Linked DNA regions of Homo sapiens. The protein of the gene in region 2 interacts with the protein of the main gene of each other region in a pairwise test. Each region holds a gene or a part of one and is shown on either strand. Other genes may lie near its edges.

Region 1 (4,285 bases), on a different chromosome or scaffold from region 2:
TCATTCATTGAAAATGAGAATAAATGGAATTGGTGAGAATGGATGATTGTCCCTGTTATAAAGGCTTATTAATTGTCTACCCAGGGTTAACATTTTAGTAGGGGAATGAAAATGGTAAGGCGAAGGTATAATGAATGGTTCTGCAAAGAGCAAGGCAGAAAAATCAATCAAACTATTATGATTCAGATAGGAAATAAAGGTTCCACCTGGCATTTCACCACCAAGGATGGTGAAGGGCAGATCCAAAAATTATTTAGGAAGAAAATTTGACAGGTCTCTCAATGACCAGCTGAATGGGGAGGAACTGGGTACACACAGATATGAAGATGAGAACAGTAGGCCAGGCACGGTGGCTCACTCCTGTAATCCCAGTACTTTGGGAGGCCGAGGCAGGTGGATCACTTGAGGTCAGGAGTTCAGGACCAGCCCGGCCAACATGGTGAAATCCCGTCTCTACTAAAAATACAAAAAAAATTAGCCGGGCATGGTGGTGTGCACCTGTAATCCCAGCTACTCAGGAGACTGAGGCAGGAGAATCACTTGAACCCAGGAGGCAGAGGTTGCAGTGAGCCGAGATCACGCCACTGCACTCCAGCCTGGGTGACAGAGTAAGACCCTGTCTCAAAAAAAAAAAAAAAAAAAAATGAGAACAGTAGACACTGGTCTCAAACTCTTGGCCTCAAATGATCCTCCCCCCCTCAGTTTCCCAAAGTGTTGGGATTACAGGGTGAGTCACTGGCCTAATTTTTCTAATATAAAGATATTTCTGGCTGGATGTGGTGGTTCACATCTGTAATCCCGGAACTTTGAGAGGCTGAGGTGGGCAGATCACAAGGTCAGGAGTTCGAGACCAGCCTGACCAACATGATGAAACTTCGTCTTGACTAAAAATACAAAAAAAATTAGCCAGGCATGGTGGCACGCGCCTGTAATCACAGATACTCAGGAGGCTAAGGCAGGAGAATCACTTGAACCCGGGAGGCGGAGGTTCCAGTGAGCTGAGATCGAGCCACTGCACTCCAGCCTGGGTGACAGAGTGAGACGCCTTCTCAAAAAAAAAAAAAAAAAAAGATATTTCTTAGACAAACAGCACTATAATAAATCATTGCTGCATATGTGTTCAATATTGGTCTTCCCAAATAATACTTCATACTTTCTTTCTTGTATTATAGTATCACCCATAATGATTCCTTTAATTTAGCATTTATTTACTTTCCTTTTTTTTTTCTAGACCTGTTGGAACAAGCCTCGCATGTCACTAACACAAATATTAGTATTCCCAGGTTATGTACCTGCTCCCTGGAATTGAGGTTAACAGAAAAAAATAACATATCAATCTGACCATTCCCCCAACCTCCAAAACAATCATATTCACAATTTTGTCTCAACACACATCTGTAATTGCTGCAATTGTGTGTCTTGAATGACTACATTTGTCTGTCTTGTTTCTATCTGACTTTAAGGGTCTCAAGGGATTTTCTGATATTCAAAAAGCATTTGTTGAGAAGGGGGCAGGAAAACAATATGATAGATAAAAGAATCACATGAAGACAGTCAGATCTGGGTTTGAATCCTGGTTCCCCTTCTTCTGGTTGTATCATCTAAGCCTCAAGATGTCCCTCATCTGTGAAATAAGAACCTCACAGGAGCAGTGTAAAGGTCAGTTAAGACAATGCATATAAAGTGCTTAGTGGAGTGCTTGTCTTTCAGCAACCTCTCAAAAAACATTATAAACCAGCTTCCAAATAGCTTTGTGCAGTCTCCCTCTTAAATGCAAACAGACAACCAAAGATAATCTGAGGAAAGCTTCTAATATGATAGACAAGAGGCTAAAAAAGAGAAAAAGGAACTTGAAGGAAACAGAGACAATATCACCAGTATGCTCAGAGATATAAAAGACAGGCTGGGTGTGGTGGCTCACACTTGGAATCCCGACACTTTGGAAGGCCGAGAAAGGAGGATTTCTTGAGCCCAGGAGCTTAAGACCAGCATGGACAACACAGTAACACCCCTGTCTTTACAAAAAATACAAAAATTAGCCTGGCATGGTAGCTTGTGCCTGTAGTCCTAACTACTTGGGAGGCTGAGGTGGGAAGATTGCCTGAGCCCAAGGGGTTAAAGTTGCAGTGAGCCGAGATCATGCCACTGCACTCCAGCCTGGGACAGAGTAAGACCCTGTCACACACACACAAAAAAAAACCAACAACAACAACAACAAAAAACCAACAACAACAAAAAAAAACGTACTGCACCCATGAAAAATACCAAAGGAATATTTAATAAATGGGAAGCATTCTGGAAATTATGTCATTTTTCATTAGGTAAGCAAAAAATGCAGATTTGGAAGATAAATTTGAGGAAATCTTCCAGAACTAGAATAAAATAACAGTGATTTTAAAAGAAATACAAGAAATGTAGATAAATCCAGGTTAATATCTAACTACTCCCCAGTATAACAGTGAAAAAGTCCTAAGATGTCGTTTATGCCAGAGGCCTAGAGCAGGGGTCCCTACCACGAACTAGGTACGGGTCTGTGGCCTGTTAGGAACCAGGCTGCACAGCAGGAAGTGAGCAGTGGGAGGGCGAGCATTATGGCCTGAGCCCTGCCTCCTACAGCGTTAGATTTTCATAGGAGGGTGACCCCTATCGTGAAGTGCTCATGCCAGGGATCTAGGTTGCATGCTCCTTATGAGAATCTAACGCCTGATGATGTGAGGTGGAACAGTTTCATCCTGAAATGATCCATTTCCCGATCCATCCACCCCACCCCACGCAACCCTGGTCTGTGGAAAAATGGTCTTCCATAAAACCAGTCTCTAGCGCCAAAAAGGTTGAGGACTGCTGGCCTAGAGAGAAACCATTCCAAAGTGGAGCAGGACACTTGTGGGCTCCAGGGGAGGAAAGGAACTGATGAATTACGAATGTGTTTAACTGTTTGAGGGGGATTTTTGAGAGCTAACAGAAAAGCCTAAGAATAATAATGATACATACATTGGTGGGGAATGAGGGAAGGTGGGGGGAGGACCAAACAAAATTAGTAATTATTAACACAAGAAAAAATTTTTTTAAAGGAAATGTGATGGGCCAGGCATGGTGGTTCACGCCTGTAATCCCAGCACTTTGGGAGGCCAATGCAGACGGATCATCAGGTCAGGAGTTCGAGACCAGCCTGACCAACATGGTGAAACCTCGTCTCTACTAAAAAATACAAAAAAATTAGCTAGGCACGGTGGCGCGCACCTGTAATCCCAGCTACTCAGGAGGCTGAGGCAGGAGAATGGCTTGAACCCAGGAGGCAGAGGTTGCAGTGAGCTGAGATTGTGACACTGTACTCCAGCCTGGGTGACAGAGTGAGACTCTGTCTCAAAAAAAAAAAAAAAAAGGAAATGTGATGATAATAATATAGGGCTCAGCTGCTAACATTGTTTACTAAGTTATAACACTGAATTCCGATCTAACTGTGATAGAGCTGACTGGGAAACAGAAAGATGGAAAGACGTTGAAAGGGTAGGTAAGTGTGCTTCCGAGAGGACGTGTTAAAACAGCTAAATCCTCACCTACCATATCAATAAGCTAGTAGATAGAGTCTGTAATGAAAAAGATAAAAGAACAGTTGAAAGAATGTTACTGAATAATAAAATACCACTTTGTACCCACTAGGAAGACTATAACAAAAAGACAGACAAAAGCTAGGTGCAGTGGCTCATGCCTGTAATCCCATCAACTTGGGAGGTGGAGGTGGGAGGATCACTTGAGGCCAGGAGTTCACGACCAGCCTGGGCCATACAGCGAGACCCAGTCTCTACAAAAAATAAAATTAGCTGGGCATGATGGTGTGGGCCTTTGTCTCAGCTACTTGGGATGCTCATACTGGGGATCATCTGAGCCCAGGAGTTCAAGGTTCCAGTGAGCTATGATTGTACTACTGCACTGGCCTGGGCAACAGAGTGAAACCCTGTCTCTAAAAATATTTTTCTAAAAAAATCAGACAGACAATAACAAGTGCTGATGCTATTCACAACAGCAAAGACATGGTAACAACCCAGCCCATCAGCAGTGGATTGGATACAGAAAATATGTTACACATACACCATGGAATACTACACAGCCATAAAAAAGAATGAAATCATGTCCTTTGCAACAATATGGATACAGCTGGAAGCCATTATCCTAAGCAAACTAAAGCAGAAACGGAAAACCAAACATCATATGTTCTCACTTACAAGTGGGAACTAAACACTGGGTACACATGGAAATAAAGATGAGAACAACAGACACTGGAGAA
Region 2 (5,071 bases):
CGATTCTTCTGTGTCAGCCTCCTGAGTAGCTGTGACTACAGGCATGCACCACCACACCTGGCTAATTTTTGTATTTTTAGTAGAGAGAGGGTTTCACCATGTTGGCCAGGCTGTTCTCGAACTTCTGAGCTCAAGTGATCTGCCCGCCTCGGCCTCCGAAAGTACTGGGATTACAGGTGTGAGCCACCGCGCCCCACCCATTTGTTAACAGTGTTTTGATGCCCCTCCTCTTTTAAAGTTGAAAAGCTGAAGGAAACAGAAATTCTTATAAAATGGAAAACTTTAATTGTTTAAAGAAAAGGCACAAGTAAACATTTCAGGTTATCATACAATGTTACAATAAAAAATTCCAATAGCAAAATGAAACACATTATAACTTTGCTTCTTGGTAGTATACTGAATGTATTATTCTATCATCTCCTCTTTGGAGTAAAAAGAAGGGATAGGCAGATCAATGGATGTGATGTAAAAACTTGGATCATAAATAGCATCCACTATACCTTTAACCAGAAATTAAACTTCAGTAGAATTAAAATTAATTTTTAAAACTTAGTTTTGTTAATAATAGAGCAGCAGTAACTTTCAAGCTAAAACTCATTGTTTTGGTAAGTAAATAACTGATTTCATGAAATGTTCGCTGTCAATGTCTGGTATGTTAATATACATTAATCAAGCTGGTCATGAAACAGTTTTACCAAAATATAATTCATATACTTATTTTACTTTAAACCTGAATATTACAGTACATTATATAAAAGATAAATGAGAATAAGGAACTAAATTATTTCTTACGATGTCAGAAATAATATACTTAAAAAGGTGTAGACCTTATTTTCAATCAAAGGCACTATCTGGAGAGTTAACAAGCTGCATCATGTTCAGAATTGAGAAAAAGTTTTTCTCCTTCCCAAATAACTGGCTGATTAGTAGAAACCTGTCATCTCAGCAAACACTGAATACCTAGTATCTAGCCAAAAAACAAACAAACAAACAAACAAACAAAAAAGACGGTGGGGGCAGAAATTGTGTAAAATTACATCTTTGACTTCTTTTCCCAGGATTTTTTTTTTTTTTAAAGAGACAGGGTCTTGCCATGTTGCCCAGGTTGGAGTGCAGTGGTTATTCTTTCACAGGTGTGATCATTACACACTACAGCCCCAAACTCCTGTACTCTAGTGATCCTCCTGCCTCAGCCTCTTGAGTAGGTGGGACTATAGGAGTGTGCCAATTTCTAAAAAGGCTGTTGAAGTGTTTTCTTGATCTAAAAGTGTCTGTTTCATTAACTCAATGCAATTTCCATTTTATTCACATCACTTGTATCCTCTACTCTCAGCTTGTCAACCCAGGATGGCAATGACACCAGGAAGGTAACTGTCCCAAGGGAGCAAGCTTTCTTATTATGAGTCATTTCATTCACTTTTCTCCCCTGAATATACTCAACTCTAAGTGTTTAACTTAATAACATTCAAATATCACAAAATGTCAGTAATTAAATAAAATTCATCGAGAACATTGTTCAATGCTTCAAAGTCTTGAACAACATACTTACATTAATTTGAATGAAAAGGAGTCAAACCAAGGCATAATATCCTATTGCATCCTAAAGGCCTGGGAGATTTTAAACTCTTCTAAGGTGTATTTGAATCAGATCTTCAAAGAAAAGAGTGTTATTTCTAGTTTTTTGTTGTCCAAATTACAAGAGTTTCAACGGATTAAGGTTTCCTTACCATGATTCTTTTAACACCTAATTCCTAATCAGAAATGGTACTTAAGAATATCAACGTTTAGAATTCAAACATGATTCTAGAAAATTTCTTATCTTAAAGTCAAACTATAACCTTTACTCAATAAAGCATACTCTTAAAGGTCTGTGATGCATGCTTTAAAGAACAGTGATGGGATTCTGGAGTTCTTTCCTTTCTTTCTCCTTCTCCAAAGATACAGATATCTTTCTACAGTTTTCTATGGAATAAGAGACTTCATCATATAAAATGGCTGGCATGTTTTCCCTTTTGAATAGTTCTGATTATAATATCCACCATGAAATTTTACGTTTCCAAATCATAAGCTTAATAGCAAAAGCAAACAATTTGACCTACCACTGAGCTAAATTGAAGAAGAAAAACCTGCATTTTAGAGTATCTGTTATCAAGGGTTAGCAAACTTTTTCTGTAAAGGATCAGATAAATATTTTAGGCTACCTGGGCCATATGGTCTCCCTTGCAATGACTCAACTCTGCTACTGTAGCACAAAGCGGCCATACACAATATTTAAAAGGGTGAGCATGGGTGTGCCCCAATAAAACTTTACTTATGGACACTGCAATTTGAATTTCATATAATTTTCATGTGACACAAAATATCAGTCTTTGGAATTTTTTTCCCAACTATTTAAAAAAGTAAAAACTGGCAGCTGACTGCAATAGCTTGTAGGCTGCACTTTGCTGACCCCTGGTCCAGATCATTCAGATTTCTTGATGTGAGGGTCAAAGCAATAATGTGGCCATGCATCATCTCACTTCACTTGGACATTGATAGCTTTCTGGGCTGATAGTATAGAACTCCGAACAAAAATCCCCAAAGCACAAGACAATCCTACGAGTAAGTAGTATCTACACTCACAGACTGTGTAGAGCTTGTAAGTGTTGATACTCATCTATCTATCTGTATATATATTCAGGAAACATTTAAATCAAATTCATTTAAATTATGTTGTCAAAAAAGCAGGGAATTGCCAGGTGTGGTGGCTTACGTCTAGTAATCCCAGCACTTTGGGAGGTCAAAGTGGGTGGATCACCTGAGGTCAGAAGTTTGAGATCAGCCTGGCCAACATAGCGAAACCCCATCTCTACTAAAAATACAAAAATTAGCCAGTTGTGGTGGCGTGCACCTGTAGTCCCAGCTACTTGGGAGCTGAGGCAGGAGAATCGCTTGAACCCGGGAGGTGGAGGTTGCAGTGAGCCAAGATCGTACCACTGCACTCCAGCCTGAGTGCAGTGAGACTTCATCTCAAAAAACAAAAATAAAAACAAAACAAAACAGAGAATTGAGAAATTCTTCAGCTGAACCCTTTCAAAAGCTTTGGTGTTAGGGAGATCTAGGTTAAAATCTTGGCTCTTGCTGGGAGCAGTAGCTCGCACCTGTAATCCCCACACTTTGGGAGGCTGAGGCAGGAGGACCACTTGAGGCCAGGAGTTCAAGACCAGCCTGGACAACACAGTGAGACACCTGTCTCTATATTAAAAAAAATCTTGGCTCTGCTACTTACTAGCTTGTAACCACAGATAAGTTATTTAACCACCAGAATTTAGCCTGGTGTTAAGGACAGACACGCAGGGGTATGTTTTCAATTTCATTTCTCAGGCAAGCAAATAGCTACAAAAACCTTGCTGGAAAGCCTAGTCCACAACGTACCTGAAGGCTTAACTCCTAGTTTTTGACAGAAAACTACTTTTATCTCTTCTACTCTATTTCATATTTTTTTTTTTGCCGCATGCAACATACTGTGCAAAACTGTGCCTCCATACATACTGAATTCTACTTTTCTCTTCCAAGGCTTTTTCCATAGGTTAACAAAATGTTTTTTTTTTCATAGGCTAACAAAAATGAGAGTAGAAAGTACCCAGTCAACATATTCATGTCGTCTTTCCATAGTGCAAGTATAATTTGGGTGTTTTCTCTAACTTATCAGTGACAGGCATCCTGTTTTCTAGGAAATAATATCTAAATGATATAGGAAAAACTGGTAGGAAAGGATTCTTATGGCTTTATCTATAGAACAAAAACTAGAGATTCTGAAGATCATGTTAATAGATTATTTGTAGATATAATTGCTATGTTTCTTGGACCTTAGCCCATTGCTTAAATTATATTCAGTAGAATATTAGCACTAACTAATATGTGCTATAACCTCTTCAGTCATGAAAAATTTAGTAGTTACATACACATGAAATAAAAGATTCCACCAACAGTGTTTTTGAACAGGCATCAGTTATGAATCTGCTAGTATTGAATGCTAAGCAAAATACTAAAGCTCTTAAAACATTAGTGTTTTATTTTTAACTTTTAACCTATTATTTACAGAAGTCCTGTTAGATGCTGAAAGCAGTCATTTTGCAACATGTATGTTCTTCATATAAAATGATGTTCAATGTTAGGTGGTACAGATTTATAAATATGTACAAACAAAACAGTATGTCTGTAGTTAACCTACTACTCTAGTAACCAACACATGGAAGCATCATATGCACATAAAAGTTAAACATTAAAACAAAACTTAAAACTCTCAAAACAGATAATCATGAATTTGTGTTTATAAAATTATATAGAATAAAGGCTTTGTGTGTGGGGACTTTCAGTGGCCCACCAATAATTTTCATGAAAAAATAAAAATAGAAAAAAAAAACCTCCCAGACACAAACAGACAAGGTAGGCTGGGTGCAGTGGCTCACACCTGTAATCCCAGCACTTTGGGAGGCTGAGGCGGGTGGATCACTTGAGGTTAGGAGTTCGAGACCAGCCCAGCCAACATGGTGAAACCCCATCTCTACTAAAAATACAAAAAATTAGCCAGGCGTGGTGGTGCGCACATATAGTCCCAGGTACTCGGGAGGCTGAGGCAGGAAAATTGCTTGAACCTGGGAGGCGGAGGTTGCAGTGAGCTAAGATCACACCACAGCACTCCAGCCTGGGTGACAGACTGAATCTCTGTCTTAAAAAAAAAAACAACAATAAAAAAAAAAACACAAGGTAAATCAGATGTATGTCTTGGTCAAATGTCTGTAGACAGCCACCTTGAGAACAAATTGATAAACATAAATACACAATTTGCTCACTGAGCATAAAATATTGCACAAGAGCAGTTTTGTCTGAAGAAAATTCAATTTTCCATAGTTTTGAACTTCAGAATGGTTCCCACATATAGATATAGTTGCATTTTCTAAACAAGAAACATTAATATTCAGTAATACTGTTAGAACCTTGTTTTACACATTAACCATATACCAGTCTACTTTATGGCAATGGTAAATCAGTGGTAAAGATTTGGCAAAGATAAAAAGGCAGATAAGAC

What was found.
Region 1: the proteins of EVI5 (region 2) and FAM161A interact in binary tests that used the Homo sapiens proteins (3 or more experiments, as listed by UniProt).

What each region holds. Positions count from the first base shown.
Region 1 is NC_000002.12:61,830,061-61,834,345, forward strand, and holds part of FAM161A (protein FAM161A), read right to left. Parts: intron 1-4,285. UniProt on the Homo sapiens protein: Involved in ciliogenesis.
Region 2 is NC_000001.11:92,508,434-92,513,504, forward strand, and holds the end of EVI5 (ecotropic viral integration site 5 protein homolog), read right to left. Parts: 3' UTR 263-5,071; downstream 1-262. UniProt on the Homo sapiens protein: Functions as a regulator of cell cycle progression by stabilizing the FBXO5 protein and promoting cyclin-A accumulation during interphase. May play a role in cytokinesis.